Linked DNA regions of Homo sapiens. The protein of the gene in region 1 purifies or fractionates together with the protein of each later gene. This does not show direct contact. Each region holds a gene or a part of one and is shown on either strand. Other genes may lie near its edges.

The links.
Region 2: the proteins of TRAP1 (region 1) and WDHD1 fractionate together in Homo sapiens (co-fractionation; one large-scale study listed by BioGRID). This does not show direct contact.
Region 3: the proteins of TRAP1 (region 1) and OPA3 purify together in Homo sapiens (co-immunoprecipitation; one large-scale study listed by IntAct). This does not show direct contact.

Annotation. Positions count from the first base shown.
Region 1 is NC_000016.10:3,658,470-3,662,121, forward strand, and holds part of TRAP1 (heat shock protein 75 kDa, mitochondrial isoform 1 precursor), read right to left. Parts: coding exon 3,518-3,652; intron 397-3,517; coding exon 324-396; intron 1-323.
Region 2 is NC_000014.9:54,992,600-54,996,251, forward strand, and holds part of WDHD1 (WD repeat and HMG-box DNA-binding protein 1), read right to left. Parts: intron 3,215-3,652; coding exon 3,004-3,214; intron 1-3,003. UniProt on the Homo sapiens protein: Core replisome component that acts as a replication initiation factor. Binds directly to the CMG complex and functions as a hub to recruit additional proteins to the replication fork.
Region 3 is NC_000019.10:45,557,175-45,560,826, reverse strand, and holds part of OPA3 (optic atrophy 3 protein), read left to right. Parts: intron 1-3,652. UniProt on the Homo sapiens protein: May play some role in mitochondrial processes.

The DNA.
Region 1 (3,652 bases):
TCAGGAGATTGAGACCATCCTGGCCAAGATGGTGAAAACCCCATCTCTACTAAAATACAAAATTAGCCAGGCGCATGCCTGTAGTCCCAGCTACTCGGGAGGCTGAGGCAGGGGAATTGCTTGAACCCGGGAGGCAGAGGTTGTAGTGAGCCAAGATCGCGCCACTGCACTCCAGCCTGGCAACAGAGCAACACTCCATCTCAAAAAACAAACAAACAAACAAAAAGACAGGATTTTAGAGGAAACCGCTGTTCCACCCTGAAGGCAGGCTGGCAGGGCTGGTAGCCTGGGTCCCTGCAGTCATCCTAAGCTGCTGCACTCACCTGATCCACCAGCAGCTGAGCCAGGCCAGGCTCGCTTGCGCGCAGCTGATTCAGCTTCTTGATGAGCGCGTGCCTGCAACACAGAACCCACCAGAAAAAGCAGCTCAGTACCACGTGCTGTGACCCTCCCTTCATGTTTTGGGATTATCAGGATATTTAAAGAAGCACAGTAAGACTGTCTGTAGTTTTTTAAATAAGGTATGTTAATGATCATTTATAGATAATATCATTATATACCCAGAAAACCCAAGAGAATCAGGAGTGTCAGTATTAGAAAATGCTGTAAGGTAGCCAAACTCCAAGATTAATATACACTAAAGGGACAAAAGGAGCTTAGTACGTGAAGACATGCCTTGGTTCCTAGATAAATAATAAAAGAGAAGGGAGTAAGACCCACATGTTGAAACATATTATAGGGCTCTAGTAAATAAAACAGTTTAGGTCTGGAAAGGGGGAAGGCAAACAACTCCATGTAACGAGGGTGGACACTGAGTGTCTGATGAGGACAGTATTTCACAGAAGAGGGAGGAGACAGATCACTCCATCCAGCAGCACTGGGATGACTGGGAGCCATGCAGAAAACCATTTAGACCAGAGTAAATTCCAGAGGGATCAAAGATGACAAGCACAATTCTAGGGAAGAAATGTTTCATCATCTCAGAAGGGGAAAGCCTTTCCAAGCAAAACCACAAACCAAAAAGTAAAGAATGATTGACATATTTGACGTCAGAACAATATTTTTTTCTGCATAGGAAAAAGCATCATGTAGTATTTAACCTTAACATGAATATTATAATTTTTCACTTAGAAGTCTGATAAAACCGAGGGCTCTGGGGAACTGTAAATTTGTACAACCTCTCCAGAGGACAACTGGAGTCGGGAAAACCACATGTGGATGATATGCTGAGACTCAGCCATTCCATTTCCTAACTGCATCCCTTTAAACACTTTTTTTTTTAGATAGATAGATAGATAGATAGATAGATAGACTCTCACTCCTTCACCCAAGCTAGAGTGAAATGGCATGATCTTGGCTCACCGCAGCCTCCTGGTTTCAAGAGGTTCTCTTGCCTCAGCCTCCCAAGTAACTGGGATTACAGGCACCCACCACCACCCCCAGCTAGTTTTTGTATTTTTAGTAGAGATGAGGTCTCGAACTCCTGACCTCAAGTGATCCACCCGCCTAGGCCTCCCAAAATGTTGGGATTACAGGCGTGAGGCACCGCACCCAACCTAACAGAGGAAACACTTCAAATGCACATCCTCACATTTCTAGTCTACGTAGCTGGAAAAAAAGGACATTCTTAATATGCTAATGTGGAGGTCACCTAGTTACCCTAAGGGAGAAAAGCAAGGCAAGGACCCACTGCACAGCAAGTTCCCCCTTGGAAGCCCACGGGCGCAGCTGCCCACAAATGCACATAATCTCTGCAGAAATACAAAAGCCCTAATGCTGGCTGCACTGGGGACACAGGTAGGAGGAAATTTTCCCCTGTAAGCAGTTTTGAATTCTGAACTATGTGGACAGAACACCAAATTTTAAAACAAATGAAAGTGAAGCTGGCTGGGCACAGTGGCTCTCGCCTGTAATCCCACCACTTTGGGAGGCCAAGGCTGCAGTGAGCTCTGATGGCGCCACTGGTACACTCCAGCCTAGGTGACAGAGCAAGACCCTGTCTCCAAAAGTGAAGTGGCAACAGACAGAAACGAGCACTTCTGCAGCTATCTCACAAAACTAGTTTGCCACCAAAACTAGTTAAAGTGACCTGGTGTCCGCCTCACTGAGCTGCTCCAGCAGAGGCACAGGCATTCTGCATACTGGCGCTGCTGTGCACTGACAGCCATAAGCCAAGTCAGCCTTTCCCCAGGAGTGCCATGGCTAGGAAGATGCATCTCCCTCGCCTCCAGTATAATTTTAAAAGTTATGGTTGTAAAATGACAAAAGAAAAAAACTAGACATGTACTAAAGAACAAAACAAAAACTGGCTGGGGGTGGTAGCCCACACTTGTAATCCCAGCACTTCGGGAGGCTAAGGCAGGTGGATTGTTTGAGGCCAGGAGGTAGAAGTTGCAGTGAGCTGAGATTGCCCCACTGCACTCCAACCTGGGGGACAGAGTGAGACCCTGTCTCAAAAATTAAAATACTACTTAGGCTACATTGTGGGGGGGGTGGTAAGTCTATGGATTTTGATTTCCTTTTTGCTGTTTTCTATTTTTGGTAACATGTTTATGTAACTTCATTTTTTAAAAAATTGCTACATTCAAAATTTCCCCCAAAAAAGAAACTTCATATACAAGTTAGTTCATATACAAGTTAGAAAATGAAATTTTAAAATACCCCATAAGACACATCAAAGAATAATTCTTTAAAAATGGTACCAGAACCCTACAGAGAATGTAAGGTACCAAAGGATGTTAAAGACCTAAATAGATCACATTCATGGGTGCAAAGAAGTGATACTGTAAAAAGAAAGAAACTCAAAAGATACCTAAAGGCAGGTGAAAAGACATTTACAACAGATAAAGGGCATATAAAGAACAACAGGAAGAAACGAGGGAAATCTTACGGCTCAGCCACTGTCAGGGCTGGGGGGTTCTCGGTGCACCCTGGAAGCAGCTCCCACCACCGGGGCCACAGAGAAACCCACACAAGCCCCAGACACGTGGACAAGAATACTCAGAGCAGCCTGGCTCTCCACAACTTCTGACCAAGAACCACCGGAGGCCCAGCAGAGCAGAACGGAGCAGTCTGCTGTGCCGAGGTGGGTTTCTGCAGCGGACATTATTCGGCTATGAAAATGAACTTGTGGCAGCCCCTCTGCATGGGCAACCCTCATGCCAAGTGAGCAACGTGAGACTTCAGCAAACACCAAGATCCACGTACAAAGCTCAAAACAGGCAAAACTGAGCATGTCCAGGACACGCACAGGTGGCAAAGCCATAAAGCAAAACGAGGACATGGTCACAGGCTGGGATGTGGCTAACCTCCCAGGTGACACCTGGGGATGGTAAGGGGCTGGCCAGGTTCCATTTCACATGGGTGCAGCCTAAACTGCATACAGCTCCTTATAGTTACCCACATGTCCACAGGCCTCACGCACTTTTCTTCTGTGTCACATTCCACAACAAAAGAACACCACACACAGGATTCTGGGGAATCCCACAGGCTGGAAGAGCCAGGAGCGTGGCCTCACCTGGGGTTGATCTCCAGCGTGGGCTGCAGGAGCTGTGCGCGCTCCTCCTGGGTCTTGGCCAGCTGCTGCATGCGCAGGAAGTGGCGGGCAGCCCCCATCTCCAGCACGGTGACCATGGCAGGGTGGGTGTCCAGT
Region 2 (3,652 bases), on another chromosome or scaffold:
AGATTGGTAACAACACTAGCAGATATAATTTACAGCCAGGTGCTGTGACTCACGCTTGTAATTGCAGCACTTTGGGAGGCTGGGGAGGGAATATCACTTGAGGCCAGGATTTCAAGACCAGCCTGGGCAACAAAGCAAGATTCCATCTCTACAAAAAATAAAAAATTAGATGGGCATGGTGGCATGCATCTGTAGTCCTAGCTACCCGGAAGGCTGAGTGGGAGAACTGCTTAAGCCCAGGAGTTCAAGGTTACAGTGAGGTGTGATGATACCACTGCACTCCAGCCTAGGTGACAGAGCAAGATGCTATCTCTAAAAACAAAAATTAATTAATTAAAAACAACATATAATTAATTAAAAACAAAAACAAATAATTTATATTAGATAATAAAAAGTGTCAGTATAAAGAGGATCTATAAACTTCAGTGAACCAATATTATCAATTCATATGTTACAAAATTAAACATGATTTTAAAAAATCCATTCAACATTCAAGTCAGACCAATGAATTTTTTGATTTTATTTTGTTTTTTTCTGAGACAGGGTCTCGTTCTGTTACCCTGCCTGGAGCCCACTGTTGCAATCATGGCTCACTGCAGCCTCGACCTCTCGGGCTCAAGAGATCCTCCTACCTCAGCCTCCCAAGTAGGTGGGATTACAGGCACACGTCACCACACCTGGCTAATTTTTAAAGTTTTTTTGTAGAGAGGAGGTCTCACTATGTTGCCCTGGCTGGTCTTGAACTCCTGGCCTCAAGCAATCCTCCTGCCTGGGCCTCCCAAAGTGCTGGGATTACAGGTGAGAGCCACCATTCCCAGCCAGACCAATGAATCTTAACATAACAGAGCCGTAAGAGTTCACTGAAGTTTTCAGATTACACTTTGCAAGTAATCTTTAGGAAACGATCATCTTCTGAGTCTTGGTGCAACATCAAAGAATATCCACAATTAATTGAATGTGCTATTAAAAGATTTCTTAAAATACTTCTCCCTTTTCAAATTACATATTTATGTGAGGCCAAATTTTCTTTATACACTTCAAACAAAAACAATGTATAGCAATAGACTTAATCCAGAAAAGTAGATGAGAGAATCCAGCTATCCTCTATGATAGACATTACAAAGATTGCAATGCCACTCTTCTCACTAATTTTTTTTGTTTTTCATAAAAAAGTACTATTCATGTTTACATGAGTTTATTAATGTTATTTTTAAGTGAATAAATATTTTTAAATTTCTGAATTTTAATTTCTAATATGTAAATGACGATAGCCGTAACTCTGTATAAATAAATGCTCTCGGAAGGGTCCTCAAAATTTTTTAGAGTATAAAGGCTACTGAGACCAAAACATTTGAGGACTGCTGTTCTATAAACTCTATATGACTTTAAAAAGCACAACATAGCACTGCACATTGGCATTTTACTTGATAATGTTCAAGTGTTATTGTAGCATGTAAGTTGTTACAATAAGCACTCTATTTGAAGATTTTCAATTACAATCTCAATTTCTTCATTTTACTTGATAATGTTCAAGTGTTATTGTAGCATGTAAGTTGTTACAATAAGCACTCTATTTGAAGATTTTAAATTACAATCTCAATTTCTTTAATAGATACAATACTATTCAGGTTATCTATTACTTCTTGAGTTAGCAGTGGTACTTTGTGTCTTTCAGAAAATTCGTCTATTTCATTTAAGTTGTTAAATTTATGGGCACAAAGTTATTCATAATATTGCCATTATGCCTTTGATATTAATAGTAGCACTGCCATACAGACATATAATGTGAGTTACAGCTGTAATTTTAAATTTTCTAATATTTCTAAAGTTTAAAGAGTAAAAAGAAACAGCCATAATCTTAATAATATAGTGCATTTAAAATACATATTATCATTTCAACATGTACTCAATATAAAAAATTTCCCAAGATTTTTACATTCTTTTTTTCATATTGTCTTCAAAATCTGGTTGCACTCCATGGTGAAACCCCATCTCTACTAAAAATACAAAAATTAGCCAGGCGTGGTGGCGCATGCCTGTAATCCCAGCTACTCAGGAGGCTGAGGCACAAGAATCACTTGAATCCAGGAGGCGGAGGTTGCAGTGAGCCAAAATCACACCACCGCACTCCAGCCTGGGTGACAGAGTGAGACTCCGCCTCAAAAAAAAAAAAAAAATCCGGTTGCACTCATAACATATCTCAGTTTGAACTAACCACATTTCAAGTGCTCAACAGCTACATGTGGCTAGTGGCTACTATATATTGGATAGCACAAATCTACAGATCTATAGTGATGGCCCACCTCTCTTTCATTCTCTATGTTAGTAATTTGTGTCTTCTCTTTATTGATCAACCACGATAGATATTTATTAATTTTATTGATCTTTTCTTTTCTTTGGAGATGGAGTCTTGCTCTGTTGCCCATGCTGGCATGCAGTTGACGCGATCTCGGCTCACTGCAACCTCCACCTCCTGGGTTCAAGTGAGTTTCCTGCCTCAGTCTCCTGAGTAGCTGGGATTACAGGCACGTGCCACCACACCCAGCTAATTTTTGTATTTTTGTAGAGACAGGGTTTTACCATGTTGGCCAGGCTGGTCTTGAACTCCTGACCTCAAGTGATCTGCCCATTTCAGCCTCCCAAAGTGCTGGGATTATAGACGTGAGCCACCGTGCCCGGCCTTATTGATCTTGTCAAAGAACCAGCTTTTGGTCTCATTGACTTTCTCTATAGGTTTTCTGTTGTCAATTTTATTGAATTTTGCTCTGTATTATTTCCTTCCATTTGCTTGGGGTTTAGTTTTCTCTTTTTCTAGTCTGCCATAGCAGAAGCTTGGATTATAGATTTGAAACCTTTTTTAACAAAGTCATTTAATGCTATAAAATTTCCTCTAAGCACCACTTAGCTACATTCTACAAATTCAATAATGACTTTAATAGTGTTAATAAAAAATCTAAAATATTAATCAACAGGGTAATCACATGCACAAAGTCAAATTCTTACCAACTGAGTTTTCATCATCTTCTAGGATGTGACTTCGCTGTCTAGGACGACCTGAAGCCATCATGAGGTCTTCATCATCCTCATCATCATTTATAATCCCTTTTGAAAAAGAAGGGATCTCAACTGCATTGTCATTTAGAAAATCACCAGCATTACTCATATCATCTCCATCAAAAAGATCATTATAATCCTTTTCCACTCTGCTAGATACCTTGAACAAATTAATACAAATTATAAAGTAAAAGTGAATGATTTAGAAAAACTCAATTACTAAAAAGGTAAACTTTTAATATGCACCTATAAATTCTACCAAGCAGCAAACTCACTGAACAGATAAGAATAATTAGTAAATGTATTTATGAGAATTGTATTTATATTTACACAATAAGACCCAGTCCTTATTTCAAATGCCTTGTAGTCTGGGGATGGGATGGGAGTATAGGGACTGACATGTAAACAAATACTGTATATGCCAAAATATAAAATAAGATTTTATTCCTCAGAAGTCATTCCCTAGAAAAGAAGTGATATTAATATGATAAAGTCCCTATAAAGTCTGTCATATTGTAAGACAGTCTCTCATTTACTTTTATTTTGAACAAAATACTGCATAAGATACATTTTCTTTATATTATCTCAGTTAAAGTTA
Region 3 (3,652 bases), on another chromosome or scaffold:
CAGCCACTGTGTTGTGACCTAGAGTGTCTGAAGTGCCTGTGGCCTGGAGCTCCGGGGCTGAGAGAGATCTGAGCATAGGAGTTTGGGTCCTGAAGTTCTGAGTGGCCCCTGGAAGTAGATGTGACAGTCGAGTGAGAAAAGGGCTTAGGAAATGGTGCCCTGAGAAATGACAGCCACTGAGGCCGAGGAAAGGGTCTATATCAGAGACAGATGTGTAGAGGGGGCCTGGAGCCAATCCAGGAAATCCAGGAGGAGGGGCAATGCACAGTGCCACATTCTCGAGGGGACAGATAACACCAAAAGCATCAGGAGAGAGAGAAGGGAGATGGGGGAGCCAGAGACAGGAGCCATACCCATTGTCCATGGTCACCTCCTGGGCACCTCCACAGATCAGCTTTTTCATTAAGTGCCTGCTCTGTGCCTATCTGGGGCTGGGGACAGTGCAGTGACCGAGTTAGCCTCAGGTCCTGCCTGCATCGGCCTCACAGTCCAGTTGGAGAGACAGACTTGTCACCATGCAGTGAGGACCCAGAGCAGTCAGAGCTCAGATAGAGGATCCCAGGGGTCTGGAGGTCAGGGAAGGCTTCCTGGAGGAGGGGACATCTGAGTTGGGATTCTCCGGTATGGAAGACAGATGAAAGGGAGTGAGTCTGGAGGGAGAGAGTTCAGGGAGGAGACGGAAAACGATTCTATGTAACCCAAGAGTAGATTCACACCAGTGGGTAGGATGTACTTCCAGGAATAAAATTCCTGACAGAAGTCAGGAAGAGGATATTAGGTTAACATTTACAAACTGAGCATTTTCTCCCTTACTCTGTCATTGCCATTCTCCCAATCCTGTCAGTTGAGTATTTTGACCCCCAGTTTTGATAAGGAAACACCAAGGCTCAGCTTGCGAATCCAGAAAGTGACAGAACCAGGATTTGAGTCCAGGTCTGTGCGACTCCAAAGGTCTTGCTGCCATTTATTAAGGCCGGCCTCGTGTTAAGCCCAGGGAGCTTTGAGAACCTTGAGAATGTGTCTGACCCAGCCTATGGTTCAGGGAGGGCTTCCTGGAGGAAGGGACAGTCCAGCTGAGATCTAAAAGAAGAATTGGGAAAAGACAGGAAGAGAGAAATGGAGGGGGCCAGGTGCGGTGGCTCACACCTGTAATCCCAGCACTTTGGGAGGCTGAGGCGGGTGGATCACGTGAGGTCAGGAGTTCGAGACCAGCCTGGTCAACATGGTGAAACCCTGTCTCTACCAAAATATACAAAAATTAGCCAGGTGTGGTGGTATGTGCCTGTAGTCCCAGCTACATGGGAGGCTGAGGTGAGAGAATCACTTGAACCCGGGAAGCGGAGGTTGCAGTGAGCCGAGATTGTGCCACTACAGTCCACCTGGGACAGCATGGCGAGACTCCATCTCAAAAAAAAAAAAAAAAAAAAAAGAAAGAAAAAGAGGGAAAGAAGAGAGAGAAGAGAAAGAAAGAAAAGAAAAGAAAGAAAGAAAGACCATTGTCCATATTCTTTTAAGTAATAGAGAAAGTAGGAATACTGACTTACTCATTTTATGAGTCCAATAGAATACTGATATCAAAGCCTGATAAAGTCATTACAGAAAAGGAAAATTATAGGTTAAGATCTCTCATGAAGTTGGAGTTAGGCCAGACACGGTGGCTCACACCTGTAGTCCCAGTACTTTGGGAGGCCAAGGTGAATGGATCACTTGAGGTCAGGAGTTTGAGACCAGCCTGGCCAACATGGTGAAATCCCGTCTCTACTAAAAATACAAAAATTAGTCGGACATGGTGGTGGGCGCCTGTAATCCCAGCTACTTGGGAGGCTCAGGCAGGAGAATCACTCGAACCCGGGAGGCAGAGGTTGCAGTGAGCCAAGATCAAGCCACTGCACTCCAGCCTGGGCAACAAGAGCAAGACTCTGTATCAAAAAAAAAAGCACCAAAGTCTCATGAAGCAGCACTCAGAGGGTCTCCTCTCTGCCTTAGTCACACCACACTGGAGAGTGTTTCCATGGCCACTGCATTGCAGAGCGGAGATCATGCCACTGCACTCCAGCCTTGGGGACAAAGCGAGACTCCGTCTAAAAAAAATAAAAAAAAAAAACAGCAGAACATAGAATAATAAAAACTGCATACAAATCCCCTGTAGAAATGGGGGAGCGGAGAAAGGGCAGGCCGCATGGGGGCAGAGTGCTCACCTTTCATAGTGGGGCTGGATTATGAGTAGGTAACGATGGCGTAGATCTGAACAAACCTCCAGTTGAAGAGCTCAGAAATGAGTGAGGTATGCTTACTATGGGCTGTCCAGGAGATGGCGCTAGGGGAAAACAGGCTGGCGACCGCAGTAGTTGAGGGTTCCTCTGAGGAGGGGACTTTGGCTTTACATTTTATAGTTTGAGTACTTTGTTTTCTTGCCATGTGTTACTTTTATTTGCGGCAGGAGTTGGGGGTGGGGCGACGGGGAATGGTAGGTTTGTTCTTTTCTTTTCTTTTTTTGAGACAGTCTTGCTCTTGTTGCCCAGGCTGGAGTGCAGTGGCGTGGTCTTGGCTCACGGCAACCTCCACCTCCTGGGTTCAAGCGATTCTCCTGTCTCAGCCTCCCGAGTAGGTGGGATTACAGGGGCCTCCCACCACGCCCCGCTAATTTTTTGTATTTTTACTGGAGATGGGTTTCACCATGTTGGCCAGGCTGGTCTTGAACTCCTTACCTCATGATCTGCCTGTCTCAGCCTCCCAAAGCGCTGGGATTAAAGGCCTGAGCTACCGCGCCCAGCCAGTTTGTTCTTTTCTTCTCACCAATTCCTTCTGATTGCTGCGTGGGGGACAATTGCAGAGGGGTGAGGCTGGGGCCGGCAGGTGGGAAGGAGGCTGGAGGCGGGACTCACTTATGTGTTAAGCTTAGATCTAATGAGCATCATGCGTGTGCCTGGCCTGGCACTGGGCAGTGCTGGGGACACAGCAGTGACTGTGACAGCCCTGGGCCCCACCCTTGTGAGGCTTACAGGACAGTGGGGAGACTGATTGCAGACAGGTAACTGGATAGCCACTATTCCTGGTTGTGATAGGCACTCAGAAGGGGATAGACAGGCTGTATTCCTCCTATTCAGGAGGTCAGGGAGGAGAACGTTGGTCAGAGCTGGGATGGATCCTGGACCAGGACAGCAGAAGGGAATCCACTGGGAGAGATGTTCAAGATGCAGAATGGACCCGACACGCAGCTGAGAGGCTGTGGGAGAAGGGGAACAGCTGGGCTGAGGCCCCCGTCTCTAGCCAGGGGACAGGTGTGGGGCCAGGTGCTGGGTTCAGGTTTGGATGTGCTGAGTGTGAGAGGTCTAGGAGACATCTGGAGCGTGTTGACCCCCGCAAGTCTGGTGAGTCCTCCAGCTTAGCCTGTCCCGGCCCCTCACAGCTGTCCCTTCTAGAATCACAGCCCTGTGATTCATCCCCACCTGGGCCTTGTTTCCTGAACCCCACATCTGACCGCTGGCCCGAGGGAGAATGCCGTCGGCCCCTGCTCTGAAAGCCCTGAAAGCCCATGCCTGCGTGCACACACGCGTGCACACACACACACACCCTCTTGATTTGATTTCCTGTGGCCTGGGTATGTGCCCACTCCCATTGGCACACCTAGACCCACCTGCTGGCCCAGATC